Homo sapiens: one gene and its partner. The protein of the gene in region 1 interacts with the protein of each later gene in a pairwise test. Each region holds a gene or a part of one and is shown on either strand. Other genes may lie near its edges.

Region 1 (16,711 bases):
TTAAATTATAATTCTAGTTTCTATATTGTAACCTAATTTTTTTATTTTAGGGAAAATATAAATCAGAAATAAAAATACAATGGCTTATCAATTAAAGCTCTAATAATGACCTATATGTATTCTTTGTATTCTTACTAACTTCATGGTTTTCAGTGTTTAAAACTGCTATCCTGATTATGCCACAGTTCTATGTACTTAACTGACATACTGAGGCAGTCCATAATAGAGCTTCAGCTTTAAAAAAAGGTTTAGAATTTTTTGCTATTGTAATTGAGAGAACCCCGCTTTTAATAATGATGTATTGACCTAATCACCAGAATGATAACAAAGAGACTCAGAGTCCTGAAAGAGTCAGTCTCTACTTATTAAAAGAGTCCACAATAGCAAATTTCTAATGACCCTATGAATGGCAGTGAATAAGTGATGGTGGCAAAGAAAAGGTGTTATTCTTATGCTGATAGATACTGCAAATAATAGTCCTTTCCACTTCCCAACCACAGAGGTAGAGACAGGTAAAAGTCAGGCCAATATTATTGGAAAGGAGAAATTTAAAGGAAGCAGCACCTATCTCCAGCTCTTCTAGAGATTTTTTGTGTGTTTGAGATATGGGAATTTATATTACACTTATCTATTCAGTGGTTCTTAACCAGCAGCGTATCAGTGTCCCAAGAAATGTTTTATTGTTGTTGTTGTTGTTGTGTTGTTGCTGTTAGAGGCAGTGTCTTAATCTGTTGCTCTGGCTAGAGGCACCACCATGCCCAGCTTCAAGGAAATATTTTAAAACATACATGCCCAGTAATATTTAATAGTAAATATTAGATTTACCATATTAAAATCTTCAGGGGATATCCTAGACTTAGAGATTTGCTTTTAATTTCCCCAGGTTACTGCCATGCACAATTCTAACTGCGAACCAGCACAGTTGATAATCACTTCAGTCTCATTTCTCACCCACGTGGCAAATTCCCTTTATCGTTTGGGATTTGGCCGAAAAGAGGAAAGAGCAAAAGATAGAGCCATTCACTGAAGACTTCATTTACTTTTCCTGGGTAGGGGTAGGGAAGAGACTAGTAAGCTCAAAATCCAACTTGATTTTACTATTTATAAGCTCCGTATCTCCCACCTGCCCATCAAGACATTCTGGACTTGAGAGTAGAGTTTAGATGCTTATCTGAGTGGCTGTTTCTGCCAGAATTGAATAATGTCCATTAATTATGTGTTCTTCTCTCTGCTGAACTGTGTGCCGCTTCATCACCACTATTCACTGCCAACCTGGTTTCCTCAGAGTCTTACCAAAATTGATCCCTGGGCAATTTCACAACTCACAAACTCTTTCCCAAAGTAAGAATAATCATCCCCAAAACTGAAGCGATCTTTGTCTAAACATATAAATTGAAAACAAACAACAAAACACACAAAAACCCTCTCCACAGTATTTTCCCTCATTACCTAATTTCCAAATTAGCTTGTGCATTTCTGATTGCTCTCCTTTTCTTCATTTTTCCCTCTTAAGCCTTTCCACAGAGGAATCACTTTCAAATGAAATCACCTTCACATACAACACTTTCAACAGCAACAACATGTACATTTATTGTGAAATTCTTTAATTTTCTTTGACATTTAAAATAAAGCCTATTTATAAGGGACAATTTTACTTTCCTGTGTCACTTCACACTGATTAGAAAAAAAGTAATTTAGTGGAAAAACACTTAACTATTACCTTTCCCAAATTCAGTTGTCATGAATTATAAATTTATTGTAATTCATTTGTTTTTATAGTTATTTACCATAAGTGCATGAAAAAAGGCTGTTCCCTATAATGCTTCTTTAAAAGTTCCAATATTTAAAGTAAAATCTTAGACAGTTAAGGCATTTCAAAATATTTTCATTCAAGGAATGTTTGAGCTTCCAAATATGAAAAATTGACCCTTACATGTGTCAATGTTAAAATAAATGCATTTCAGATAGTTTGAAAATAACATTGGTTGACCTATACCTTGCTGCATTCTTCAATATTTGTACCATGTGAAAGAAGTTTTTCTATCATGGATGTATCTTCATTATACACAGCGTAGTGCAGAGCAGTCCTTCCAAAGAAATCCGTAATATTTGGATTGGCGCCATTTTGCAGCAGAAGAGTTGCACAAGCCTCCTGCCTCAGTTGTACAGCCTGTCAGTATTAGACCGAGAAACATGCAAATACTGAAAAATCAAAATAAACACTCCGTAGGATTTCCTACTAGTTATATGGTGGTATTCCAATGAGATAAATTCATTTTATCCTATGTACTTCAACCAAATCCATCTCATGCTCAAAGAGTCAGCTACTATATACCTTGATCAGAGGTGTCCTGTCTTCACGGTCGCAGAGGTTAAGCTCACATCTTCTGGACACCAGGAGATGTACCATTTCCGGTTGGCCAGTGGCACAGGCCAAATGTAGGGCGGTCCTGTGAGAGTGACAGGACTTTTTAAAACATGTAACTGTAAGCATTAATTAGCATGTCATTTCTCTGTCTTCAAAACAAATATGTAATTTTCTTGTGAAGAAAGTACAACATTTGTTAGCGCTTATTACTCACCACATTAATGAAAGAGCAGGCTATTTAATAGAAAAGCCTTGGCTTTTGGATTCAGTTTAATTGGGGCTTAAAATTTACTGTAAGCTCTGTCACTTAGCTGTTATTTAGCCTTTCTTTGCTTCAATTTCCTTATCAATAAAATATATAAGAGAATAGTAGCTAGCCCACAGAACACTGCTGTGATGCTTACATAAGAATCTATGCACAGCATTTAGAACACTTTCTAACACAAATAACAGCTCAATAATTTTTAGATATTACTACCTACAAAGACATTTTAATTAAGTAAAATGATACAATCATATCTACATTGAGGTATCTATTAAAGATTAGATGTATCATTGTATTTCAGTCATTCTCAGATGCTCATTTTCTCACCATTCTCTTATATAAGCTACTATTCTCTTATATATTAACATCTCCTGACATTGGAATACTGTTTACAATTAATTGTTTATTACATTTATAACTGGCAACATTTTAAACATTATCTTATTGATATATAAAGTAATGTGGCATCACCCAATCCGTGATGCCTTACATTAAGTGGGATACAGTACATAGAACAGGCAGTTCTACTCATATAATTGGCACCTAAATAAAGTACTGTGGAAAAAGAAGGCAAAAATAAAAAAACAAATTTTTAAAACAAAGTAATTCTCACTTCAATTTAAAAAAAAAAATAATCCAAAGAAAACTCAGGATTCAAATGAATAGGTATGGCCCATTTTTTTCAATACTTACAGAATGTTATGTAAATTAGGTATTTGCAACGATTAATAGTAGTATTTGAGAGTGTCATAAGTTTCTGAAATGGCAGTTAAAGGTTATCTTTCACTATTTTCTAACTTCAGAATTGCTTTTGTTTAAAAAAAAAAAAAAAAGGAATAAAAGATCCAACTGGGATTAAGTCCTAACGCTTCCATTTTAAATCTCAGCTTGCTCAGGCTGGGCAGGTAAACATGAAGTTGTTAAGGGTGGAAGAGTCCTGAGAGATGGTGGAATCTGTCTGCTACATAATAGGTATTCAGGTTATGCTTGATGAATAACTGGATTGAAAGAATGCATACATACAGTTGGGAAGTTTATTATGAAAAAAACTATAAATTAAAGCAGTGCTTTTGGAATAGTGATAATCACTTATATTTGCTCATTTTCATTTTCATGAGGACACTGATAAACTAAAATAATTAATTTAAAATTGTTTCCTTATATGTAATAAAACTATAATAAAAACCTATTTATGTACTAAAATCTATGCATAATAAAATAATCAAGCACAAATAAAAATATTCCCTCTGCCTCTGAAGAGGCTAAAAGTTCACAGAAGATACCAATAAACAAAAAAATAAAAATAAGGCCAGGCACAGTGGCTCACACCTGTAATCCCAGAACTTTGGGAGGCCGAGGCACGGGGATCACCTGAGGTCAGGAGTCTGAGACCAGCCTGGCCAACATGGTGAACCCCGTCTTTACTAAAATATACAAAAATTAGCTGGGCATGGAGGCGCACACCTGTAATCCCAGCTACTCAGGAGGCTGAGGTGGGAGAATCACTTGAACCTGAGAGGCAGATTGCAGTGAGCCGAGATCATGCCACTGCACTCCAGGCTGGGCAACAGGGTGAGACTCCATCTCAAAAATAAACAAACAAACAAAGACATAAATAATAAAATAAAATAGAAACTGAGAATTATTTTTTCTTTGCAAGATTTATATTTCTTCTTTTTCCAAGGATAATTTCATTAATAAAAAACATTTACTAGAAGTTTTAAACATACTGATCATTTATACATCACAGATAAGAGAAAATATCACAATACACCTGCCAGAAAAGAAGAAATGTTACATTTTGTACACATATTTGGCTTACAAACACCATAGATTGTTTGTGTGTATGTATAATCAAACCAACTTTTTTTCAGAGTACATCTTCACACCTCAACATACATCTGTATCTACTGACATCTGCAAAGGTCCCATATTGTCCCATCCTATGGATGCACTGAAATTTATTGATAAATTTATAAAATTTATAAAATCCATTATAAGGGGTTTTCCAAATACATTGCTATTTTAAGCAGTGCTGAGAAAAACAAATTGCATGTATCTCTATTTCCTAGAGATATTTTAGTATAATGGAATTGATGGGTGAAGGGCACATACATTTTTACAGTGTGATACTTACCAAAAAATTGTCTATTTGAAAAGTCATCAGAAATGTAAACTTTCAACAGCAGTATATGTACTGCTACCCTTTACCCTCACAAACTTGTGATAGAAAATAGTATTTCATTCCTTTTTTAACTTAAATACCTTCTCCTCCCAGGAACACTAAATATTTTTTCCCATGTGCATAGGTTGCTTGAACATCTGAAAAATAAATGCTTTGCTCTATTTTAAATGAGAGTTCTTGTTTATTTGAAGAATTCTCTGTAAAATGAAAATCACTTTTTTATCTAATATGTATATACACATATTGTCTTTTGTTAATTTTTTCTTATAAACTGGATTTTTTTTATTTTGCTAAATCGACCTTCAGAATGTGTGCTTGTGATATTTGTAGGAATATAAACATGCATCAATATAAGTAGGCATTTGTGTTTTTTTCTGTTATCTTTCTTATTTTGTGCATTTAAAATTTTTAATCTACATTCCATAACGAATTTATTTCTGTGACATAAAAATCTAGCCAGATTTCTCCAAATAGTTAGCAGGCACTTCATTTATGAGTAATTCATCTTTTCCTACTAATATGAAATGTCACCATTATCCAATTCTATTAGATTGGTGCAAAGGCAATTGCGGCTTTCGCCATTACTTGTAATTGCGGCAAAAACCGCAATTGCTTTTGCACCAACCTAATAAATTCTTACACATATTGGTGTGTTCCTGGATTTTCTAACCTGTTCCATTCACTGATTTGTTGTTTCAGCTGTTAGTAAATAACTTGTGGAAATTAACAGCACATTTTCATATCTAGAAAGGCAAGTCTTTTTTGACTCCATTTCAAAAGTTTTCTTGATGTCGTCACAATAGTAAAAGACAGCATGAGTAATTCAAAAATGTTAACACTTTGATAACTTTATTTGGATTATGTAAAATTTATAAACACAGAAAGAGCTCAGAACTTTAGAAAAATGTGTCTTTCTATTCAAGAACACAGACCATCTTCCCACTTCAAAGTTTCCCTCTAAGGTCCCTCAGTGAAAACCAAATTGACATAGGTGTCCATTGATATCAAATAAATATTGGATTTTTATCCAAAGAATTTTTAGCCAGGAAGTTGATATATTATGGAAATGATTTCTCTCATTATGCACCTTTCCATAATGTATGTAACATTATGCTTTAAAATGTGCACGTTAAAAATAAAACGCTGTACATGCTGAATTTTATTAGTGAAATCACTTTAAAATGATTTATAAAGAAGCAGCATGGTGAGTGATTGGAAACCAGCTGAAGTTTTGTTTTTGTTTTGCTGCTTGTGAAAATGACCTGGGTGCTCGCCCCCGCCAAGGTTTCCACATCCCAGGTGCGGCTGAGCCTGCCAGGAAAGAAAGTCCAGCCCCTTTGGTGACAGGACTCGCCCCCCTCACCTCTGCACCCCTTTCCCCCACCCCATTCACCCCCACCCCTCACCCCCACCTCCAGTCCTCTATCCCATTGAACCCTCACCCCATCTCCCCACCCCACACCGTCCACGCCCCTACCCCCCAAGCCTTCATTCCGTCCACCTCAGCCCATTCACGCCCCCACCCCATGCACCCCCTACTCCCCACTCCCATCCCCCAACTCACTCCACACCCCGCCACCCCATATACCGCCACTCCCCAGGCCCCGCTCCACTCACTCCCACCCCAGCCGGGCACCCCCTAGCCCCCGTCCAAACCCCGAGCCCCGGACCATCCGCCCCGCAGCCCTCAGCCTGGAAAGGGGTACTTCTCCACATCCACAGGCCTCCTCCCGCAGCCCCGGCTCCCGGCCCCCATTACCTTTCCTTCCTGTCTCTCTTATTGGCGTCATAATACGTGAGCAGAAGGTACTTCAGTTTCTCTAGATTACCATGTAAGACAGCTCTGTGGATCCTCTTCAGATGATACGGTTTAATGGGGTATTGGGGAAATGCGAAGCCATCCGAGCACAAGCGCTCCATGAGGGTGGGCCACCTCTCCCGCTTGCCGTCTTCCATAATCGTCGGCTGCAAATTGTAGCCTGCAGCCGTATTTCAGCTCGCCTTCGGGGATCGCCGCCTCCGAAGAGCAACAACGAGCAAAGCAGTCTGTCCACGGACCTCCGCACAGACTCTCAGCGCCTCCCGCCTCTCAGCAGAAACGCCCAACAGAAGGGTTAGAACCAGCGAGCACGCGCACCTTAGCCGGCCCTGCCCAACAGGCCCGAGGCAGAGAAACCGCCCTAGCAGCTCTCGCGCGCCCAGTGCAGGCGGCGGTTGCTGCGGAGGTGCCGCGGGAGGGCGGGGCTCCCTGGAGCGCGAGGCGCGCCCTGCCCCAGGGCCTGTTTAACTGTCGCCCGCGCGCTCTTCTCTTCCACAGGCTCCCGACGCTCGGAGTCCCCCGCGCTGGGCCCTCTGCAGCCCAGGGATGGGGTTGAGTGGTGCTTCTCCGCCTGGTGCCACCGCTGGGCCCACAGCCCCACTTCGCCACTGCGTCGCCCCCGGGGTCCGCGCTGATGGGTGCGAGGCGGGAGGACGGGATCCGGGGTTGCCACAGCTGCAGCCAGCGCACCACTTGTAGGCGGCACTGCAGCTCGGGCTCCGGCGGGGGCTGGCGGGGCTCCCGTGGGATGGCCTCCTGGGCCCTGAGTGCGCCCCCATCCGGCCGGAGGGTGCGCGCCTCCTGCACCCCCGGCGGAAGCCCATGCCCGGCGCTCCTGCCGCAGACTGCCTGACTTGCCGCGGCCAGGCTGGCCCCGGGGTCCGCGCGGCTGGAGGCGCAGGCCTGGTCGGGGATTCCCAATCCTCGGGGACCCCTGCTCCATGTGCTGGTGGCGGCTGCAGCTGCAGCGCCCGTGGGCTGACGTGGCTTCCCGGAGCTGCGGCCGGCCGCGCCCAAGGGCCCCACAGGCTGCGCTGCCCTTGCCAGCTGCTCCTGACCCGCGCCCAGAGCGCAGGACCTGACGCTTGGCACTCTGCAGCCACGGGGATGAGGCTGAGCGCCTGTTTTCGGCCTCGTGGCGCCGCTGGGGCCACAGCCTGACTTCACCACCCTGTCGCCCGAGTCCTGTGATGGGCAGGTGTGAGGAGGGGCAATCGGGGTTCCCAAGGCTGCTGCCTGCATGCCACTCCGTGAGGAAGTTGAAATACGTGATCTCTAAGATTCCTCCCAGTTCTTCACCTCATGAGACAAATATAAATCAAGTAACATTCGCTATTGTGATTAGAAAAGCTGCATTTACACACGTTAGCCACTAGATGGGGACGTGCGATTGTTACAATGCTGAAGGTTTCCCGTATTTCTTTATTTTTTATTTGGCCGCTAGAGGGCACGCCTGCACTGCACTTAAAGCTGACTATTAAGGAAAGACAAAGGAATTCTTGGATTTTTCCATTTTCCTCATCACCTGTGCTTATCAGAGAATTCCAGGGGCAAGCTACCCTTTCCAATTCATCACTAATTTATAAACAAAATTCTAAGGAGTAAGGAATGCTTCTTACTTACTTCCTATAACATATTTAAGAATGAACGCTCAAAATAAAAGTAATTTATTTAAAACGTGTTGAGTAATTATAACTGCAAAATTTTTGCTCATGTTTTTCATATGCTGTTCATTTGCAAATTATTAGAAATCTACATATTCTGTTCATCTCAGCATTATTTATAACAGGGAAAAATTAGACACTAGCCAAAAATCTAAAAACAGGGAACAGTAAGGAAAAAACAAATGGTTCTTTTAATCATCATCACTAAAAGTGCTTGTGACTTAAAATAATGACATAAAAGATGCTTCTACGTTGTTGAGTAAAACATCAAGATAAATTTAAAATTCTATTTCAAGCTTAACTATATTCATTTAAAAAGAGAAAAATTTTAGAGGGTTTATCTTGTTGGATTATCAGATGTTATTTTTCTCTTTTTAATGCCATATACTTTTCAAATTTTCAGTGGGCTGGTATTACTTTTGTATTTAAAAAAGAAAAATATAAGGAAAAAGAAACCTGTCACACACTTTTTAGTGGATTTTACTGATCAGTCATCTCTGTATTTCTGGCATCAGCAAACTGAGCCAGAAACTCAGTGCCTCCCATTTCTTTCTTTTTTTTTTTTTTTTTAGACGGAGTCTTGCTCTGTCGCCCAGGCTAGAGTTCAGTGGCTCAAACTTGGCTCGCTGCAACCTCTGCCTCCCAGGTTCAAGTGATTCTTCTGCCTCAGCCTCCCAATTAGCTGGGATGACAGGTGCCCACCACCGCACCCGGCTAATTTTTCTATTTTAGTAGAAACAGGGTTTCACCATCTTGACCAGGCTGGTCTCGACTCCTGACCTTGTGATCCACTGGCCTCGGCCTCCCAAAGTGCTGGGATTAACAGACCTGAGCCACCGCGCCAGGCCAAGTGCCTCCCATTTCTTGTATTTACCTTTAAAACTCCTGCAATGAAGGACTCCCTCCTCCCTCATCTAACCTATTATGTGTGTGGTGAGTTCTGACTATGATATCATTCCTGATGTGAAACCGAAGTCTCTCTCTTCTAAGTCCATCCATTGGTTCAGTTCTGTCTTCTGACAGAGTCCACGCCAGACTTCACATTTCTCCCAATCGTCTTTGTCCTACAAGGGCTTTCTATTCTTCAAGCTAAAGAGATACCAGTGATTCCATTCGTTCATTCAGTTAACGTTTAGGGGCCACATCTTGTGCTATGTCCTGAGATTTGCCAATGAGCAGAGCTCAGAGTATTGAAAAGACAAACACATACACCAGGCATTTTACTATGCTGTGTTGTGTGCATGACAGGAGCACACAGGGCATCCAGGCACCAGTGAGAAGGGCCATTCACCAGACTTGAGAGGTCAGCAAGGGTGCTCTGAGGAAACACCTTCTAAACTGAGAGCTGGAAAGAGTGAGACAGGAAAGCAGTAAGAGGTAGCGTTCTGAGGAGGAAATCTCCGAGGTGGGACAGGGATGCGTGTGGAGAGAATGCCCTTCCCATCCCCACTCTTCATGAAGTCTCTACTCTGTCAGGGTCTCTCTGCCCTGTGAGCTGCTTGAGGACAAAGACTGTTTTATAAAAATTTTTATTTCCTCCCTCTGTCTTCCTTAAACACCTAGCCCAGTGCCTGGAACATAAGAAGCCATAATGAATTTTTGTTAGATGAGTGAAGAGTGCTGAGTAGAGCAGAAATGTCACATGCCTCAGTTTAAATATGGGTCATCAGTTTTCTTTCTTTTTTAACATAGAAGTCAAGACTTGATGATCTCTTACAGCTTCGAGATGCTATTAAAGATATAATCATCCTCATGTATTTGAGCTTTGTTTTCACCCATTATGTTATGACTGCTGTCCATTGTTCCATGACACAATTCTCCATCTTTCCTCATTTTCTTCCATTTCAATTAACTCATTTATTTACATGTGGGAATGGAACATACAACGTAAAATCCACAAGTAAGACTTCCCAGATCCTCAGCTTCTTTCTCTGGCATTAGCCACTGTTTCTACTTTCATGAGCATCTGCTATGGTTTGAATGTATCCCCTCCAGAAATCAAATATTACAAATGTGATAGTATTAAGAGGTGGGGACTTTTGGAGGTGATTAGGCTATGAGGGCTCTGCCTTCATGAATAGGATTAAATATGCTTAGAAAAAGGAATGATGGAGGAAGTTAGACTCCTTTTGCCCTTCAGTCTCCTGCCATGTGAGGACACAGCACTCCTCCTCTCTGGAAGATGCAGCCTTCAAGGCGACATCTTGGAAACAGAGACCAGACACTCACCTGACAATGAATCTAATGGCCCCTGGATTTTGGACTTCCCAGCCTCCAGAACTGTGAAAAAACCAAATTTCTGTTGTTTATAAATTACTCAGTCTATGGTATTCTCTCATAGCAGCCCAAAACAGACAAGACTGTAGGAAATCAATTTGTATTCAGCACATCAACAAAATTCTTTACAAATGGGACTCCCCCCAATAGGTGGGTGTCACTAAAGAGAGGTGCCCATAAGCATGAGACAATGACCACGTGGCATGAGCAACGAACTACGATGAATGAGCACGTTACCACCACTAAAGACAAAACTTACATGACTAGATGACAACAAAATAATTTCTTATAATGAATTTCTCATTGTATTTTTTCTTAACCTTCCCTCCATTTAGTCAGGAATCTGGCTCTGACTCACACCTGAAGGACAGACAAGGACTTTTGTTTCCAAAAGCATAAACTGAAAGGAGAACTCGCAGAGTCTACAGAAAAGAGAAAAGACATTTGTCAACAGGGAGTGTTTATCTTTTTTAACTGGAGGGAGAGAGCAGGGATGAGGAGAGGAGATGCCTTCGGTATTGGAAAAAAACAATATTGTAGAGTTTTCCATCCCGGTACTAACAAAATTATAAAGGCCAATAAGAAATAACTGATAGCAATAAAACAAGGAAAGGGGCATAGCCTAATACAGTAAAGAAACTGGTGACTCAAAGAGAGAAAGGAAAAGAACATTCTGGAGCAAAATAGAGAGGGTCAGCATTTAGCTCCTAAGTTCCTCTTCCATCCTCCAGCCCCACCCTCCACATCCACCTCCAAATCCGGTGATTTTGAGCATAGTGAAGCACACTGACACTGAAGGGTGTCCTTATACGATCCTTCACTTGCTGGTGACTGGTGGAAACAGATGCTGGGGAGAAACAGGAGAAACAAGGTGGAGGGACATCAGGGTGCACTTCCTCTAAGAGAAGTCAAGGCTACACATGGAATGAGGAAAGCAAACCAATGCCCAGGGGAGTCCTCATGGTACTGAAACAGGAAGAGCCATCTGTTGCCCAAGCATTCTAACCAATGCTCAGAGCCCTCAGCCGCCCTTTCCCTCTACTGTCTCCTCATTCCCTTGGGCTACCAGGAAAAGTGGAGATGTTAATGGGCTCCAATCAAAGGCCACCATGAACACATCTGTAGTTGAAGAAGTGAGTTATTACTGGTTAAGTGAGGGAGAATACAAACTACAGGGAACAGTGGGGTGTCTCACTAAGAGGACATCAGAAAGGACTTAGAGGATTTGGGGTTGTGTTAGGCAATAATCTGGGAGAAGGGTTTAAGGAAATGGGGCTTTGTTCTGAATTGGGTGTTGTCAGGAAGTGGGGGTAATTCTAGCATAGCAGGGTATCTTAATAAATCTTATGTAGAAAGATGTAAACCTGTATTAAAGCCTTAATGGGTTAAGGCTATAATTGGTAAAGAACGTTAAAGCTGTAGTTGGTGAAGAAACAGTAGTTACTCTTCTTAGCTAGAATAGAGACATTGGTCATTTGTGTGATATGAACAATGCTCATGCTTTGCTCATGCTCAGACATGATTATGAAGAGGTCTTGTTTTTGTCTTAAGTATTGGCACAAAATGATATGGTATGAAGCAGATGTTCTATGGAATTGTTTATGCTCACAAGAGAACATCAACATCCATCTGTGGGTGCCAGGCAGCTCACAGCATCGCCAACTCCCGGCAGATAGGACCAGGTCAACTCCTGGCTGCCAGACACACCTCTTCTCTTTCTCAGAGGAACACAAAATACCCAATGCTCATTCTGTAGCTCAACAGGAAAACACATTCTCAGGTGAGCTGGAAAGAAAGTCGCTCATCTAATAATGACACAATTTTAAAAGACTGGTCAATTCAACTACATCAAAGACAAACAAAACAAAATTTTTTGCATGGCAAGAAAAGACTACCACCACAGTCAGAAAACAAATGAAAGAGTAGGAAAATAGGTTTGCAACTTATATCATAGACAAAGGGGTGCTATCTCTCATATACAAATAGTTCTTACAAATTTAGGGGAAATAGACCAACAATATATTGAAAAAATTAAAAAGATACGCATAGAGATTTCATAGGAAAATAATTGGAAGTTGATCTTAAACATGTGAAAAGTTACGCAACATGGCTCATAAGAAGATAAGTGTAAATTAAACATATTTCTATGCTCTGTTGTTAGGTGCATACACACATGCAGGATTGTCATGTCTTCTTGGAGAATTGACTCCTTTTTCTTAGGTAATGTCCTTCTGTATCTATGGTAACTTTTATTGCTCTTTAAGGCTGCTCTGCCTGAAATTAATAGAGATATGTTGGGGGTGTTTTTGATAAGTGTTAGTATGGTATATCTTTCTGCATCCCTTTAATTTATGCAGGTGCATCTTTATATTTAGAATGTGTTTCTTGTAGACTACATATAGTTGAGTCCGACTTTTTAATCTACACTGACAATCTCTTTTATTTTATTTCTGTCTTCCCACCTTTTATTTTAGGTTCAAAGGGTACGTACGTGCGAAGGTTTTTTTTTCTCATATGATTTTTTATTATACTTTAAGTTCTAGGGTACCTGTGCACAACGTGCAGGTTCGTTACATATGTATACATGTGCCATGATGGTGTGCTGCACCCATTAACTTGTCATTTACATTAGGTATATCTCCTAATGCTATCCCTCCCCCCTCCCCTCACCCCATTGACAGGTCCTGGTGTGTGATGTTCCCCATCCTGTGTCCAAGTGTTCTCACTGTTCAGTTCCCAACTATGAGTGAGAACATGCGGTGTTTGGTTTTCTGTCCTTGTGATAGTTTACTCAGAATGATGGTTTCCAGCTTCATCCATGTCCCTACAAAGGACATGAACTCATCCTTTTTTATGGCTGCATAGTATTCCACGGTGTATATTTGCCACTTTCTTTAATCCAGTCTATCATTAATGGACATTTGGGTTGGTTCCAAGTCTTTGCTATTGTGAATAGTGCCACAATAAACATAAATATAAAGCATGTGTCTTTATAGCAGCATGATTTCTAATCCTTTGGGTATATACCCAGTAATGGGATCACTGGGTCAAATGGTATTTCTAGTTCTAGATCCTTGAGGAATTGCCACACTGTCTTCCACAATGGGTGAACTAGTATACAGTCCCAGCAACAGTGTAAAAGTGTTGCTATTTCTCCATATCCTCTCCAGCACCTGTTGTTTCCTGACTTTTTTAATGATCGCCATTCTAACTGGCATGAGATGGTATCTCATTGTGGTTTTGATTTGCATTTCTCTGATGGCCAGTGATGATGAGCATTTTTTCATGTGTCTGTTGGCTGTGTAAATGTCTTCTTTTGAGAAGTGTCTGTTCATATCCTTCGCCCACTTTTTGGTGGGGTTGTTTGATTTTTTTCTTGTGAAATTGTTTAAATTCTTTGTAGATTCTGAATATTAGCCCTTTGTCAGATGGGTAGATTGTAAAAATTTTCTCCCATTCTATAGGTTGCCTGTTGACTCTGATGGTAGTTTCTTTTGCTGTGCAGAAGCTCTCTAGTTTAATTAGATCCCATTTGTCAATTTTGGCTTTTGTTGCCATTGCTTTTGGTGTTTTAGTCATGAAGTCCTTGCCCATGCCTATGTCCTGAATGGTATTGCCTAGGTTTTCTTCTAGGGTTTTTATGGTTTCAGGTCTGACATTTAAATCTTTAATCCATCTTGAATTAATTTTTGTATAAGGTATAAGGAAGGGATCCAGTTTCAGCTTTCTACATATGGCTAGCCAGTTTTCCCAGCACCATTTATTAAATAGGGAATCCTTTCCCCATTTCTTGTTTTTGTCAGGTTTGTCAAAGATCAGATGGTTTTAGATGTGTGATATTATTTCTGAGGGCTCTGTTCTGTTCCATTGGTCTATATCTCTGTTTTGATACCAGTACTATGGTGTTTTGGTTACTGTAGCCTTGTAGTATAGTTTGAAGTCAGGTAGTGTGACACTTCCAGCTTTGTTCTTTTGGCCTAGGATTGTCTTGGCAATGCGGGCTCTTTTTTGGTTCCATATGAACTTTAAAGTAGTTTTTTCCAATCCTGTGAAAAAAGTCATTGGTAGCTTGATGGGGATGGCATTGAATCTATAAATTACCTTGGGTAGTATGGCCATTTTCATGATATTAATTCTTCCTATCCATGAGCATGGAATGTTCTTCCATTTGTTTGTGTCCTTTTTTATTTTGTTGAGCAGTGGTTTGTAGTTCTCCTTGAAGAGGTCCTTCACATCCCTTGTAAGTTGGATTCCTAGGTATTTTATTCTCTTTGAAGCAATTGTGAATGGGAGGTCACTCATGATTTGGCTCTCTGTTTGTCTGTTATTGGTGTATAGGAATGCTTGTGGTTTTTGCTCATTGATTTTGTATCCTGAGACTTTGCTGAAGTTGCTTATCAGCTTAAGGAGATTTTGGGCTGAGACAATGGTGTTTTCTAAATATAAAATCATGTCATCTGCAAACAGGTTAATTCCTATAAACCAAGCTGACCTAATAGCCATCTATTTGGCTATTTAAGGTTAAATATTGTTTAACCTTAAATATGACATTTAAGGTTAATATTGTTATGTGTGAATTTGATCCTGTCATTGTTATAATGTTAGGTGGTTAATTTGCTCGTTAATGGATGCAGTTTCTTCCTAGCATTGATGGTCTTTACAATTTGGCATGGTTTTGCAGTGGCTGGTACTGGTTGTTCCTTTACATGTTTAGTGCTTCCTTCAGGAGCTCTTGTAAGGCAGGCCGGGTGATGACAAAATCTCTCAGCATTTTCTTGTCTGTAAGGGATTTTATTTCTCCTTCACTTATGAAGGTTAGTTTGGCTGGATATGAAATTCTGGGTTGAAAATTCTTTTCTTTAAGAATGTTGAATATTGGCCCCCACTCTCTTCTGGCTTGTAGAGTTTCTGCCGAGAGATCTGCTGTTAGTCTGATGGGCTTCCCTTTGTGGGTAACCCGACCTTTCTCTCTGGCTGCCCTTAACATTTTTTCCTTCATTTCAACTTTTGGTGAATCTCCAAGACAATTATGTGTCTTGGAGTTGCTCTTCTCAAGAGTATCTTTGCGGTGTTCTCTGTATTCCTGAATTTGAATGTTGGCCTGCCTTGCTAGGTTGGGGAAGTTCTCCTGGATAATATCCTGAAGAGTGTTTTCCAACTTGGTTCCATTCTCCCCGTCACTTTCAGGTATACCAATCACATGTAGATTTGGTCTTTTCACATAGTCCCACATTTCTTGGAGGCTTTGTTCATTTCTTTTCACTCTTTTTCTCTAAACTTCTCGCTTAATTTCATTCATTTGATCTTCAGTCACTGATACCCTTTCTTCCACTTGATCGAATAGGCTACTGAAGCTTGTGCATGCATCATGTAGTTCTCATGCCATGGTTTTCAGCTCCATAAGGTCATTTAAGGTCTTCTCTACACTGCTTATTCTAGTTAGCCATTTGTCTAATCTTTTTTCAAGGTTTTTAGCTTCTTTGCGATGGGTTCGAACATATTCCTTTAGCTCAGAGAAGTTTTTTGTTTTTTGTTTTTTTTTTTTTTTGAGAGGGAATCTCACTCTGTCACCCAGGCTGGAGTGCAGTGGCACAATCTCGACTCACTGCAAGTTCCACCTCCCGGGTTCTGGCCATTCTTCTGCCTCAGCCTCCTGAGTAGCTGGGACTACAGGTGCCTGCCACCATGCCCAGCTAATTTTTTGTAATTTTAATAGAGACAGGGTTTCACCATCTTAGCCAGGATTGTCTCGATCTCCTGACCTTGTGATCCACCCGCCTTGGCCTCCCAAAGTGCTGGTATTACAGGCATGAGCCACCACGCCCAGTGGAGAAGTGTGTTGTTATCGATCATCTGAAGCCTTCTTCTCTCAACTCCTCAAATTCATTCCCCATCCAGCTTTGTTCCATTGCTGGCGAGGAGCTGCATTCCTTTGGAGAAGAGGTGCTCTGATTTTTAGAATTTTCAGCTTTCTGCTCTGGTTTCTCCCCATCTTTGTGGTTTTATCTACCTTTGGTCTTTGATGATGGTGACGTACAGATGGGGTTTTGGTGTGGATGTCCTTTCTGTTTGTTAGTTTTCCTACTAACAGTCAGGACCCTCAGCTGCAGGTCTGTTGGAGTTTGCTGGAGGT
Region 2 (15,675 bases), on another chromosome or scaffold:
TTAGAAGCCATTAAGTTTTTTTTAAAAAACTAGATGTTAAAGTATAAAACTTATACCAGAAAAGTCTTACTAAGAGGAGGGACTAGAAAAAAAAAAGTCAAGCCATCATCTGAATTTTACTACAATAAGTAATTATTGGAATTTCTACATGAAAGGCAATTAGAATGTATAGTTGGTTAATGTAGAAATTTAAGAGATACGGAGAAGACACTGCCCATTTAAAATGTATCCTTTTAAAACCACTGAACAGAGAAATTCTTAATACAATTGAGAGTTAGTTTTAAAGTAGCATACATGTATTACAGGCAAATTAGAAATGTTGGCACTACAAAGGACCTGTAGAAATCATCTATTTACTGAGACTTTCATTTTAGAAATGAGAGCTTTGAGTACTGAAATTGTCAGAACAGAATAAGCTATTTTAAATTACTGTATATTTGGTTTTAAGTGAAACACAAATGTCTTTTACATTCTTTTAAGAGTTGGAAGGGAGGTTAAATTTTTTAGAATAATAACATATTCTAATTTTTTCCAGTGCATCTGGGGGAGGTGTTGTAGCCATTGACAACAAAATAGAACAAGCAATGGTAAGTAAAAGTTTACAGTTCTCCCATTTCATAGATTGTTGGTTGTATGGAACACTTAGCTTTTGTCAGTTTTAGAAAACAAATAAGTTATTTAAACCAAAGATGACCAAATCATGTTTTTTGATAATGAGATTTAGTTGAAGATGCTAGAACGTTGAGAACTTTTAGTCTAGAAATACTATTTAAGTAGATATTTCTTCCATTTGAATATCTCACATTTCATGCATTATCATTGATAAGGGCCATTGGTGAGGGGGCATACATATTTAAAGACAATATGTTCCCCAGATATTTCAGCATTGAAAATACTTTAGAGTGAAAAAGAGTATTAAAGCAAAAACAGCTGGAGGTCTGATTGAAGTAGACTGTAAGTAAGCTATAAGTAGGCCAGGCACAGTGGATTGTGTCTGTAATCCCAGCACCTGAGCTGAGGTGGGAGGATCACTTGAGGCCAGGAGTTTGAGACCAACTTGGGCAACATAGCAAGACCCCGTCTCTACAAAAAAAGTTGGTATTTTTGTTTGTTTTGAGATAGTCTCGCTCTGTCACCCAGGCTGAAGTACAGTGGCATGATTTTGGGTCACTGCAACCTCCACCTCCCAGGTTCAAGTGATTCTCCTGCCTCAGTCTCCTGAGTAGTTGGGAGCACAGGCACACACCACCACATCTGGCTAATTTTTGTATTCTTAGTAGAGACGGGGTTTCACCATGTTGGCCAAGGTGGTCTCAAACTCCTGACCTCAGGTGATCTACACGCCTCAGCCTCCCAAAGTGCTGGGATTACCGGTGTGAGACCTTACAGGACTGTTAGTCTCAAACTATTTTTTTAAAAATACCAAAATTTTAAAGTCCAAAATTACAGATCACTTTAAAGCAGTACTATGACTAGTTTAACATCAAACAGCTTTCCGTTGGAATATTGTTCCTTTGTTCTCTTTATCTACCATTTTAAGCATGTGATTTTAAACTTTTTTTTTTTTTAATTCTAAGCTTAGTTGACAATTTAAGAAGCTAGTATTTTTTGGAAATCGTCCCAAACTTTGAAAAGAAAATTCTGGGCTTACTGCTCTGGTTGGGAACTGGATTTTTTCCAACCCATCTTCCATAGGCTCGGTCAAGATAAAGCAGAAACATTAAAAGCAAGAGCAGGAAAACTAGTATAAAAACTTAGCACCAAGTAGGCCAGAACCAGATAGCACCACCTTTATCTTTTCACTCTTTTGACATTCCTAATTTTGTTTTTCACAGGATCTGGTGAAAAGCCATTTGATGTATGCAGTAAGAGAAGAAGTGGAAGTTTTAAAGGAACAAATAAAAGAATTAGTTGAAAGAAACTCTTTACTTGAACGAGAAAATGCACTGTTAAAATCTCTTTCAAGCAATGATCAATTATCCCAACTCCCAACCCAACAGGCCAATCCTGGTAGCACTTCTCAACAGCAAGCAGTGATAGCACAGCCTCCGCAGCCAACGCAACCTCCACAGCAGCCGAATGTCTCCTCAGCATAAAGCTTTCTTAAGCCTCATTAAGAAAAAAACTGAAAGCAATCTATCCTTGTGTGCCACTGGTGTTCTTTCCACTTTATACGAAAGCAAGTAGCCATGCTTTGGTTGTGTGTTTGGCCTTTTCAGTATTAGACAATCATTCTACAAGAGCTTTTCCTCTCTCTGAGATGTCATGCAGCGCTGTTGATGTCCAGTTCTATGTCATCAGTACACAAGGAGAATAATAGATGGGGTTTATTAAAGCGAGCAAAGTCTGCATTTTACCTGGTGCGCATGAGTGGGGTCTTTAAGAGTTTTGGTGGCTCTCCCATGTTTCCTATTACCCATGGATTTACCCTGAGCCTTCCTATCACATTATAAATAACAGTTCATCTAAAGAGCCACTTTTCTTTCTGATTCAGTAACATTTGCCTACATAAGTTTTCATTTATTTGTGTTTTATTTATTACAGGGCTGCTATTTTCATAATGTACATGAACAATGTCACAGAACTTTTTTAATTTTTTTGAATAATTATAAGTATCAGTAAAGGAAGTGAAAGACAGGATTGCATTTAATAGATAAAACGTTTAGGCAATAATTGAACAAAAGAATCCTGGCATATTTCTAACACTAATGGCAATTTACTTATGGTATTTATTTTCAGTAGTAAAGACCCAGCTTGAATGTAAATTTTGTATAGTGTAAGTATGAAGAACATAGTGCAACTGTACAGGTAGTCACCAGTTATTGTGATATGATAAATAATTGGGCTATTTTGATGAAGAAAACTTTGTTCATTTGTTTCTACTTTCTAAGAGAAATTGCCACGATTCCTCTGCTTTTCAACATTTCGTATGACTTTTTTTTCGGGTGGGAATAAAAAGCTGTGAAATTGTTCAACCTACTTTGTAACCAAAGAAGCAAAGCTGTGTAATGGAGTTTGGTTTTTTTTTGTTGTTTTTTTTTTTTTGTCTTTTTTTTTTTTTATAATGCACATTCTTTATGTATTTTTATTTAGTGTTTTCTCAGTCACAATTTTCTTTACTGTCTAGCATGATCTGCATGACCTATAATCTTTGAACCACTTTCGTACCTCATGTTTTTATCCAGCACTCTTATTGTAATATGTACTAGTCTGTGAACAATGTCAAATAAAAGAGAACGAACAGGTAGTTTGGTGGAGCTGAGCTAGTGTACAATACACTAGTTGTAAAAAAAAAAAAAAAAAAAAGTGAGCCATCTTTTGTTCATTTAAAATGGTGTTTTGAATTTCGTATGCAGAAAACGTTTTGTTACATTGCAGATTTTAATGTATTTAATAAATGCAACATGCAGATTAAGTGCAGTGTATACTGAGTATTTAAATTAAAATGTACATTTCATAAATACAGTTTCAAAAGAAAGCATCATTTTGTGTATACTAACACATTAAGTGTATGTCAGAAATTGATGTATAAATATATATTTTAACATTTTCTGAAATTAAACTGCAGTTTTGTTGAAATATTTGGCTCTATATGTGTTCAAAATTTGACTAGATTTGTATTTTCACAGTTCAAAATACTCCTTAAAGACCTGTTAATAATGACTTACTGATAGTTCTTAAATTTTCAAAGTAAAACAATTTAAAGAATGCAAAAATAGTGAGCAATATTTGTACTCAATATTCATATTATGTTAGTGATACTTAAGTAGGAAATCCTTGTCTACCAAAACTTTTACTTGAATTCAGAAAGGTGCCTGTAGAAATTAACATGCACTGCATCTGTAGCCAGCTAGCTAATCAGAGTTAATGAGAACCAGTAGTTAGTTCTCCGTGTTAAAAGACTTATTTGAAGTAAAAATTTAATCAGATTAGCCACAAACAAACAAGGCATAAAATTGGGATGTACATGAGATTGCCAAATATTTTCTATTCTAGTTGTGCTGCAAGACATTGAACAAAATGTTAATGAATAACATTATAAATCAAGGAACTAAGTACATAGGCTTGAGTAAGCAACCCTAAGGATGTGTAGTAAGATTCCAAGTAGAGCTGCTACAGGTGAGATACTTAATGGAATGTGAAACTTCACTGTTGGACTGTTAACCGAAAAGGTTTGCTGGCTGTGCCCCTCCAGTGCTAACTGTGACATGTGATATTTAATACAGGTGGAGAAAAACTAGTCTTAGAAATGGGATTTTTGTGAAAATAGATTCCATTTTGATTCTGGGGCTGGAAAAACACTTCATAAACAAAGTAATAGTCTCCAAGGAAATGAATAATAAGGTTTAAAATGGTAACAGCAGTTATTACTACTTTTATATTAAGAAAAACAGTAGAAAAGGAGAGAAAATATGGGTAGTTCACAGAAGAGATAAATGGCAGTTTCTAAAGGTTCAACCTCTAGTAACCTAAGAAATGCAAATTAATGTTTTTGGCGAATTGTAATAAGTGTCCTAAGTAGCAGGACTTAACATAGAAAGAAAGACAGGCTTTCCTGTGTACTTTTAGAAAGTAATTTGGCAGTATGTATCTAGAGCCTTAAATAATAAGCTTTCCAGTGTAACGACAGGAGAAGATACTCAACTCATGGTCCATTGTTCAAAAATGCAGAATTATTGTGGTGTCTGCCCTCTGCTTTCCCATCATCCCCTCCCCTCAAAATCCAAACTATCCCTACTGTCAACCCTTCCCCCAGCTGATTGTTTAGGATCTTAAGTAACTTCCAATTCAGCTTTGGAGATTTAGTCTCCTGCTCCAAATAGTTGTAAATATTAACTGATTGAGATCCCAATTTGGAGGCACAGTCTTACAGGAATGCCATCTATCTAATTCTGTCAGTGTAATGCCCATAGAGCAAGGTCCCACATAAGCTTTTCTGTTTTAATTTAGCCGGTAAATCATAAGTAGAAATTTTTCTGATACGGTAATTGTCTACAATTCAAACCTAACTTTCCCCAAATAAAATTTAGTTTGTTCCGATGTGATCTCACAGCTTGCCACACCAAAAACAAATAGTAGGGGTTAGGAGGCATTAAATAAACAGTTTCCTTAACTCCTGATTGTCCAAAATAGCTGAATTTTTCCAATTCTATTTATAATATCCTATGCTAATTAGAAGTATTGAGATAACGTTTTATAATCAAGCCTCCAGTGACTGGGGATCACAGCTGCCATTATTCACAAGAATTTTCACAGGTGAATGATTATATTTCTCCAAGTTGCAAACTCCAGTAATTCATGGACCTTTTTTTAAAAAAAAAAAAAGTCTTAATAGAACCAGAATATCTCTGTTCTTGAAAATTTATCTTTGCAGAACCAGAAATAGCTAATTGTCTGGAAACAATTTTTAAGATTTGAAGTCACATTTTTAAAAGAAGCTTTATGGCTCAGTGGCAAGCACTTTGTGACATTTCTTTAATAATCCTATGAAAAGGACAAAACCCAGCCCTCAAAATTGACAATTTGAGGACATAATAAGCCAACTGATAATGCAGTGAGGAATACTTGTTACTATGTACAGTCAGGGATGGTTTTGTCAGGGTAGGTTTCCTCAAAAACATGACACCTGAGTCTTGAAGGTCATAAGAGCCAGAGGGAAGGGTGTTCCAAGCACAAGAAAAGAGAACTCAATGGCTTAAAAGTATAAACAAGGCTCCTAGGGCAGCCACAGAATTGCATTGGAGACAGGCAGGCAGTGACTTCCCCACTGACCTAGTATTTTGGCATCTATTCAGAAAGCAAGAATGATTTATTGAATGGTTTTAAGCAATGGGATACTATGCTCAAATTATGCTGGATGTGCACAATTCCAGTGGCAGATGGGAGGTAGGTTAGAGTAGCTGAAACTGGAAGCTGAGAAATAATTTAGGAGGGATGACAATCCGGAAAATAAATGAAAGGGCAAAATTACATAGGCAATTTTGTGAAGGTCATGAAGGAAGTTTGTCTTGGGTCTTTCTGTACCATTTTCCTCTCCACAATGAACATCCCATTCCCAGTGTCAGGTATCAGGTGCCTATTTTCTTTTTTTCTTTTTTCTTTTTTTTTTTTTTTGAGACAGAGTCTTGCTGTGCTCAGGCTGGAGTGCAGTGGCAAGATCTCGGCTCACTGCAACCTCCGCCTCCCAGGTTCAAGCGATTCTCCTGCCTCAGCCTCCTGAGTAGCTGGGATTACAGGCGTGTGCCACCATGCCAGGCTAATTTTTGTATTTTTAGTAGAGACAGGGTTTCACCATGTTGGCCAGGTTGGTCTTGAACTCCTGACCTCAAGTCATCTCCCCCGCCCGCCTGGGCCTCCCAAAGTGTTGGGATTACAGGCGTGAGCCACCGCACCCAGCTGCCTATTTTCTTGTCCCTCCAAAAAAAGATTAAAGAGTCCCAACTCATACTTGAAAGTTTGACTCGGTCTTTTCCTTCCAACAGTTATAAATCTGTGAAATGAAAGTCTTTGTTTCCTTAAAGGGATTTCAAGAATTTAACAAAAGGGTTGGGGAATGGAACCTTTGCTGTCACTATGCCTGTCTCTCAATTCTACCCTAAAGGTAAACTAAATGGAATCCTTTTATGGTGACTAGGATTAGGATGTTGATTCCAAAGCCTTTCCCTAAAATCTATTCCTTGCTCCCTGGAAAGGATAATACAGGTTCTGGCCCCCACTGTAGGTACTGACAGCCCAAGGCAGAATAGGTTTTGCTAGGCTTTAGCCTTTTATTCTTTGACATAGGTCAGTCCTGCAGGCTTCTTTTTTCTAAGTCTCCTGCCTATCCAAAACCAGACCTTTTCTCCCACCTCCTTCTGCTTCAAGCCTCTTAATAATCCATATTTCTATTTTCTAGCAATAGTAATAGTTTATTATTTAGTGATGTATACTTGCACCCCATTTACTCCTTTTCAATATTTCAGGATACATCTTTGTCCTGTATTTCTGTACCAGTTCACAGAATTTCTACAGCAAGATCCCTTTAAATGTATGGCTTTCCTTCATAGGTTGCAAGGATTACTTTATACAAGTGCTACTGTAACTATATCTTTTGTGGAGTACAATTGGTATGACATGCTGTGTTCATAGATGAAAATGCTAAGTGAGGCACTCTGAAGCAAGTTAAAGTTCACAGACATTCTTGCTTGCCCACCACCCCCCCGAACCCCGCCATGGAATCATCAAATAAGAAAAATAAGACAGATTTTCAGATTGGTGATGGCAAAGTAAGACGCTGGTATTTTGCACTGGCGCAGTCCATTTAGTTGTTGAATTTGTTCAGCATACCTGGATGGTGAGTGAGTTAGCTTTATTTTTCATTCTCAGCAGGGAAACTGATAGACTAGGCAGTTTGGGGAATTTTCCCATTGTCTACTGTCATGGGTCCATAGTATTTAAGTTTACAGACTACAACATTGTCCACAGAAGCCATATTTATCCCCTTGGAGGGAAGGGAAAGGTGTGCTAACTTAGATCATAAAAACAACTGAATTTTAAAACAAGGCAAATGCCACAGTTCAACTTCTCCATAAAAAAGTTAAGTTCATCTCTCCATTCTTTTGCATGCCTACAATATTTCCATATAACAACTGTAAAATACTCTTGCCTGCTGCAATCCAAATGTTATCCGGATCACAGTTCTTGCTGTCATTTCACAGGCATGCAATGTATCTATAGATAGGTCATATCATACCTGAGGAAGATCAGAGACAGCAAGGGAACATTTTCCCCACACTTGAGATGGAAATAATAACAGGTCAGTGGCTAATAAAAAGAAACATGTATGACTTTGTAAAACCCTAAAAGTGATGTTTTCAAGAAATTTAGGTTTCTTTTTTTTATTTTATAAAAAAAATGTTGACATGCAATTTAATTCTATTTCAATTTAGGTGCTGCAACCTGTACTGGATGTTTGGGGATAGAAAGATGAATGGGACATGATTTGTGTGCTCCAATGAGCTCAGTCCAGTGTAAGTGTAAAAGTTAAAGTGCCATATTGTTTATTCAGAGTATATGTTATAGTTTGTGAACCTTATATCATTTGTTAAATGAAAGGTTTTTATAAATCAACAGTAATATTGCCATCCCATGTAAAAATCCTTTGATATTGCCAGGAAACAACTTTAAATCACCAGAAAGCTTTAACATCAAATAATACTTTTAGAAGGAGGGGAAAAGCCTTCCACCTCGACATCGAGCCTATGAAGTATTCCCTAAAAAAGAGGAACTAATCTGAGAAAAGTTTACACATTTTTAATACTCTAAGTTGTAGATAATGAAATTGATTTAAATCAAAGTTAACTAGAATAGGATTCATGTGTCATGAATTATATTGTCTATTGTCTCATAAGCAACAAGTGACACTTATTATCTTGGCTGACAAAATCAGCTACCATTTAATGAACCAAGTTAAGAATAACTCAGGTGACTGATACCAAAAATAAATCTCTAATACAGCTGAGAATCCAGAAACACAAATAATATGTTGAGTAAGTAATAAAAGTGACATTTCAAATTAGTAAGGAAAAAATGGATTATTCAACAAATAGTATGGGATAGCATAACAATTTAGAAGAAATATAAAGTTAGATCTTTCACAAAAATTAATTCTAGCTAGACTAGCAGTTAGTCTTCTACTTTTTGGTTACTCCCTTTTAGAAATTGGAAGCTATGAAGCTATATACCCTGTCCATTTGAAAATGCACATAAGCAAAGAACTTTACAAATAGGTTATAAAGAGAAGCTCAATCTCAGCAAAATAAGGGAAGTGCACATTAAAACACAAGAAACCATCTCAGATCCAACTAATATTTAGCGTGCATACAAATCAAAAGCTGGAAAGGGTGTGGAAAAACAGGAATACATTGCTAGTGAGCATACAAATTGGCACAGCCTCTTTTAAAGACAATTGTGTATCACCCATTAAATTTTAAAAGTCACATACCCTGTGACCTAACAATTCCAACTTTTAATGTCCTAAAGAAACATACATGTGTTCACAAGATAGCCTGTACAATGATGTCAATTGCACCTTTGCTTGTACAGTAGACCCCCTTATCTGCATTTTCACTTTTTGAGGTTTCAGTCATCCAAGGTCAACCACAATACAAAAATATTAAATGGAAAATTCCAGAAACGAACATAAGTTTTAAACTTCAAACCTTTCTGCATAGTATAATAAAAATCTCTCACTATCCCTCTCCATCCTGCCTGGGACAGGAATCATCCCTTTGTCCAGTGTATCCACAATGTATACACTCATTATATACCCATTTTATAATGCCCATTAGTCATTTCTATTATCAGATCATAAAAAAACATAGTACATAGAGGGTTTGGTATTATTCATGGTTTCAGGCATTCAGTGAGGGTCTTGGAAAATATCCTCCATGATGGGGGAGCTACTGTAATACTATGAAATTGGAAAAACCAAAATACTCATCAAGAGGATGGACTATGGTACACATGATGAAGTATTAAGTATCAATGAAAAAGAGAGAGTCCTACATGTCCGGCATGGAAGGATCTCCAGGAGACAATGTTAAAAGTTTGGGGGAAAAATTGAAAGACAATACCTGTAATACATATGATACTAGTGATGTTAAATCACATCACACACACACACACACACACACACACACACACACAAATACTGTATAGTGTACTTCTACAAGTACATATTTGTGTATTATATAGAGAGAAGGTCTGGAAGGATACTAACCAAACTGTCAACAGTAGTTTGGTAGCGTGCATTAGCTTTAACTGTAATGTTTGATGTTTTTGAATATGCATTTATGTATTGTTTGTGTAATGACAAATTAATAAATTAGAAATAAAATAAAATAATGTGTTTTCTTCTTGTCTGCTGCTAATGTTTCCCCCTGGTACCTGGGGTCTCATCATGTTCAGCATCTTTCCTCCCCAGGAATATCTTCCCCCCCTACCTGTTTCTTCTACTTCGCCTTCTCCCATGGCTTTTTCACATCAGTATTTATACAGGCTCAATAAATAACTGGCCAATAAATGAGTAGACCACCTCCCCTAACTGAAAATATGTTCCCTTCACTTGCTTTTTCAGCTCCTTCCTCTTCCTTTCCACTTTTTCCTCTTCCACGTACAGCTTATCACAAACGCAGTCTGGCTTTAGCTCCCATTGTGCCACTGAAACTGTTCTTGTCAAGGTCATTGATGATCACTTTGTTGCTAATTCTATCCCATATCTTATTGAACTGCTTTACTCCTAATTTCTCTTTATGATCATTTCATTACTCTAGTAGTTTTCTATCTCTTCATTTTCTAACTTCACTTTTTTTTTATAAAGAGTTTCCCTTATAAAAAGTATATAGTTGAATTTTCTTTTCTGAACCAGGCAACACTTCATTCCATGAAATAGAATAAGTGTTCCCAATTTTTTTCTTTTATAGAGATGAAGTCTTGCTATGTTGCCCAGGCTGGCTTTGAACTCCTAGGCTCAAACAATCCTCCCACCTCAGTCTCCCAAGTAGCTGGGACTACAGGTATCCACCACTGTTTCTGGCTTGAATTTTTAATTTCTTAACCCAATCTGTCTTTTGATAGAAAAATTTAATCCATGTCTATTTCATCAGTGGCATATTTGGATGTATTTCTGCCATCTTATTTCATGTTTTCTCCTTAAAATGCTTTCTAGACACCCCACCCCCGCACCGGCCACTGCCTTGCCACACACACACCCTTTTTCCCTTTTCTTGGCTTTCATTCAGTTGTTTCTTATTCATTTTTGATCCCTCTTTTGGTTGGGAAGTTATACATTCCAGATACATTCTTCCAGTGGTTACCTTACAATTTTGTTTATCATTTTGTTGTGGATTTTTCAACCATATACAACAGTGAACTGTATAATGAACTCCCATGTACTTATCACCTAGCTTAAACAATTATCTACTCATGGCCAATCTTGCATTATTTATACTCCCACTCATTTCCCCTCCCCAGGATACTCAAGAATGTCACCCCCCAGAAGGGAGTTCCAAGAGGAGGAGGAAAATGTGAACCCCAGGACGGAATTCTAGGGGGAGGAGGAGAAAGGGCTCTGGGACCTACATATGGGGCTTAAAGTGAAGAGCCTAGGAAACTTGGGGTGAGAGAATGCCAATACTTAGAAAGAATCCATGATCCTCTGGATTATTTTGAAGGAAATCCAAGATATCATAGACTTTATCCATATATATTTCAGCGTATACCTCTAAAGGACAAGGATTTTTTAAAGAAAAATTATAACTAAAATACCATCACCCCACCTCAAAATGAACAATTCCTTAATATTACTAAAAATCTACTCAATGTCCACATTTCCCTGATTATCATAAATTTCTTATGGTGTATTTGTTTGAATGTGGGTCAAAATAAGGTCCATACACTGCAATTGGTTGGCATTCCTCTAAAGTCTCTTTTAATATGTGGGCTCCCCATACCTCTCTTTTCATCTTGAAATTCTTCAAGAATCTCAGTTATTTGCCCCATAGTTTTTTCTGAAGTCTGAGTTTTCCTAATTGCATTCTTATAGAATCCTCTGTCCCTGTATTTCCTAAATTAGTTCTAGAAGTTTAATCAGATTTATATTTTGTCAAGATTAATTCATAAGTGGTGGTATATACTTCCATCATATAATGTCTGTCTCTATTTTGTGATGTTGGAAGCATGGATAATCATTACCTAGACCCATTAGCCTATTAATTCTATTATCCCTTCTCACTCATTAGCGAAATACTTCTCTAAAGAGAGACTTGCCCTTACCAACTATTCAGCTACCCTGTGGTACAGTTTGTATAAGAAAGGGAGAGACTTAGTTCTTTCCTTTTATTTCCCAGTTTTCAAAATAATGAGTTGAGTACCTACAAAGGAATAAAAATAAATAAGGCATGATTAGGGAAGACTTACTCTGATATTTTATTCTGGGAAGAAGGAAAAGAGAATGCAGTGAGTTGATTTAGGATGCTATGACTCAGGTGTTAGTAGAGAGAAGCCAGGAAAAAGCCCCCAAAAAGTTGATAACAGGAAATGGCGACCTGAAGATTTGTCTGTTTACTGCTGAGTCTGGAAGCAACTTCTAAGTGAAGAGTACCTTGAGGGAATAGGGGTGGGAAGCCCATGTCTGGGCAGAGAAAGGGCTAGTTCAGAAGAAGCAACTGCAGGTAAGAAAAGCAGGTCGGTTAGCCCACGGATTCAGAGAGTGAAAAGTTACAGAAATGAGCAGTGGATTTTTCTGGGTTTACTTTCTGCCACACAGAGACTAGACATACTATCCTTACAATCTGACCATGAACCAGGAAGTTTACTAAGAAAGGCTGCATGGGGTAGGTAACATTTAGCACATGCAACAATACTTTTTATTTTATTTTATTTGAGATGGAGTTTTGCTCTTGTCGCCCAGGCTAGAGTGCAATGGCGCGATCTCCGCTCACAGCAACCTCCACCTCCCGGGTTCAAGCCATTCTCCTGTCTCAGCCTCCCTGGTAGCTGGGATTACAGGCATGCGCCACCATGCCAGGCTAATTTTTTGTATTTTTGTAGAGACAGAGTTTCACCATGTTGGTCAGGCTGGTCTCAAACTCCTAACCTCAGGTGATCCACCCACCTTGGCCTCCCAAAGTGCTAGGATTACCGGCGTGAGCCACCGCGCCCGGCCAACATGCAACAATACTTCTAAGCAAGGCGATACAGATCAGCAACTCTGGTGCCGATGTGTTCTATTTCCTTTGGTATCTGTGTCTTGATTCTTCACGCAGACCAATTTTGTTATCATCTTAATGGTCTTTCCCATAAGGAACCCACTAAGAGGTTTCAGTGTTGGGACATTAGCTTAAGAACCTAGGTAGTCAGCACGAGAACCTAGGTCTGTGGGACTCTCCTATTAATGACTCCTCTTACCTACCATTCTCCAGCCAGCGTTGTCTCCTGTTCTTCTCACCTCCCCCTATTCCATCCTGCCCCGAGTAGTCTATTCGTGCTAAAGCATTCACTGAGAAAAACTGTAAAGGGAGAGTCCCTTCTCAGAAACACCAGCTTCTTTTAAAATGGAACTTTTGAAGACCTCCCTGTTCTGTTCTCTGGAGAGAGTGAACAAGTAGAGACTTGGCAATAGCTGTGGAAACACCGCCAGCCTCTTGCTTCCAGCAACCTTGAGTTCCAAACCTGTGAGTCTTAGTTTTATATTCACTGACTTCAGCTTCCTGAACCCATCCCAGTTCAGCATTAGGTAATGGCTGTGATGACAGCTGACTCATCTGGTAATGCAGCTTTCCTGGAGGCTTCCTCTGCTCAGATAATCACACTCTGGGAGGGAAAAAAGGTTACAACAATCTTCTACCCCAGGATACTCAAGAATGTCATCCCCCAGAAGGGAGTTCTACGAGGAGGAGGAGAATGTCAGCCCCAGGAGGGGAGGTCCAGCGGGAGGAGGAGAAGAGGCTCTGGGCCCTACATAGGGGGTTTAAAGTGAAGAGCCTAGGAAACTTGGGGTGAGAAGGTGCCAGTACTTAGAGACAGAAACTGAGTGGTATAAAATGGAATGAGAATCCCCTCATTGCCCTTTGACAGCTGAGAAACTTCAAACTGGGCCCCGTTTGAGGGTAAGTTCTGCGAGAGTAGAGACTTCTACTTATTTATTCACAATTGTATTCCTGGTAACTAGTACGGTGATGTATTGCTTGACAGAAATACATTCTGAGAAATGTGTCGTTAGGATTTTGTCATTGTGCAAACATTATAGAGTGTACTTATACAAACCTGGATGATCTAGCCTACTACACACCTGGGTTATATTGTATAGCTATTGCTGCTAGGCTATAAAACTACAGCATGTCACTGTACTGATACTATACTGTGACACATGGTAAGTATTTGTGTACCTAAACATAGAAAAGGTACAGTAAGGATACAGTATAAAAGATTTAAAATGGTACACCTGTATAGGGCACTTACCATGAATGGAGCTTGCAGGACTGGAATTTGTTCTGGGTGAGTCAGTGAGTGAGTGGTGAGTGAATACGAAGGCCTGGGGGCATTACTGTGCACTACTGTGGACATTATAAACACTGTACACTTAGGCTACACTAAATTTATTTTTAAAACATTTTCCTTTAATAATAAATCAACCTTAACTTATTGTAATTTTTTTTTTTGAGACAGAGTCTTGCTCTGTCTCCCAGGCTGGAGTGCAGTGGCATGATCTCAGCTCACTGCAATCTCTTCCTCCCAGGTTCACGACATTCTCCTGCCTCAGCCTCCCGAGTAGCTGGGACTACAGGCAGCCACCACCACACCCGGCTAATTTTTTTTTGTATTTTTAGTAGAGACGGGGTCTCACCGTGTTAGCCAAGATGTTCTCGATCTCCTGACCTCGTGATCCACCCTCCTCAGCCTCCCAAAGTGCTGGGATTACAGGCGTGAGCCACTGTGCCCGGCCTTTTTTTTTTTTTTTTTTTTTGAGACAGGGTCTTGCTCTGTCACTCAGCCTGGAGCATAGTGGTATGATCATGGCTCACTGCAGCCTTCACTTCTTGGATTCAAGCAGTCTCTCACCTCAGCCTCCCGAGTAGCTGGGACTTACAGGCACATGCCACTGTGCCTGGCTAATTTTTTATAGAGATGGGAGTTTCCCTTTGTTATCCAGGCTGGTCTCGAACTCCTGGCCTCAAGAGATTCTCCCTTAGGCCTCCCAAAGTGCTGGAAATACAGGTGTGAGCCACCATGCCCAGCCACTGTAACTTTTTAGTTTTATAAACTTGAAATTTTTTTAACTTTTTTACTCCTTTGTAATAACACTTAGCTTAAAAGGCAAACACATTCTATAAGTGTACAAAAATACTTCCTTTATATTATTATATAAGCTTTTTTCTATTTTAAAATTTTTTAACTTTTTAAACTTTTTTGTTGAAAATTAAGACACAAACCCACATATTAGCCTAGGCCTACACAGGATCAGGATCATCAACATCACTGCCCTCTACCTCCACATCTTGTCCCACTGGAAGAGGTCTTTAGGGGCAATTACATGCATGGAGCAGTCATCTCCTATGAGAACAATGCCTTCTTCTGAAATACCTCCTAAAGGGCCTGCCTGAAGCTGTCTTACAGCTACCTTTTTTTTTTTTTTTTTTAATAAGTAGGACTGCACTCTAAAAGATAAAAAGTAGAGTATGGTAAATATATAAACCAGTAACATGGTTATTATCATTATGAAGTATTATGTGCTATACATAATTGTATGTGCTAGACTTTTATACGACTGGCAGCACAGTAGGTTTGTTTACATCGGGCATCACCACGAACATGTGAGTAAAGCGTTGCCCTGTGACTTTACTGATGGCGGCCCACAGTTGACCTAAATGTTGTTATGCAGCACATGATTGTACTGTTATTAAATGAATGAATGAGGGTTCACACCTATCTTACATATTCTTTATTCTTGAGCTTTCTGATCTCTAAATGTAGCCTGAGATAGCCAAATCATAGCCTTGTTGTAAGGATCAAACAATATAAAATATGTAAATCACGTAACTTGGATCTGGCCCACAGCAAGCATACAGTAAATGCTGCTCTTGTTTTCTTTCTCACCCCTTTCTAGGCATCTGGTTGAAGCAATGCTCTTTCTCC

What was found.
Region 2: the proteins of ANKRD36 (region 1) and TSC22D2 interact in a two-hybrid assay, tested with the Homo sapiens proteins (one study listed by BioGRID).

Annotation. Positions count from the first base shown.
Region 1 is NC_000002.12:97,103,803-97,120,513, reverse strand, and holds the start of ANKRD36 (ankyrin repeat domain-containing protein 36A), read right to left. Parts: upstream 7,362-16,711; 5' UTR 6,775-7,361; coding exon 6,578-6,774; intron 2,451-6,577; coding exon 2,336-2,450; intron 2,173-2,335; exon of another isoform or gene 2,171-2,172; coding exon 1,997-2,170; coding exon of another isoform or gene 1,991-1,996; exon of another isoform or gene 1,565-1,990; intron 1-1,564.
Region 2 is NC_000003.12:150,456,541-150,472,215, forward strand, and holds the end of TSC22D2 (TSC22 domain family protein 2), read left to right. Parts: intron 1-535; coding exon 536-587; exon of another isoform or gene 588-592; intron 593-1,835; coding exon 1,836-2,096; 3' UTR 2,097-9,882; downstream 9,883-15,675. UniProt on the Homo sapiens protein: Reduces the level of nuclear PKM isoform M2 which results in repression of cyclin CCND1 transcription and reduced cell growth.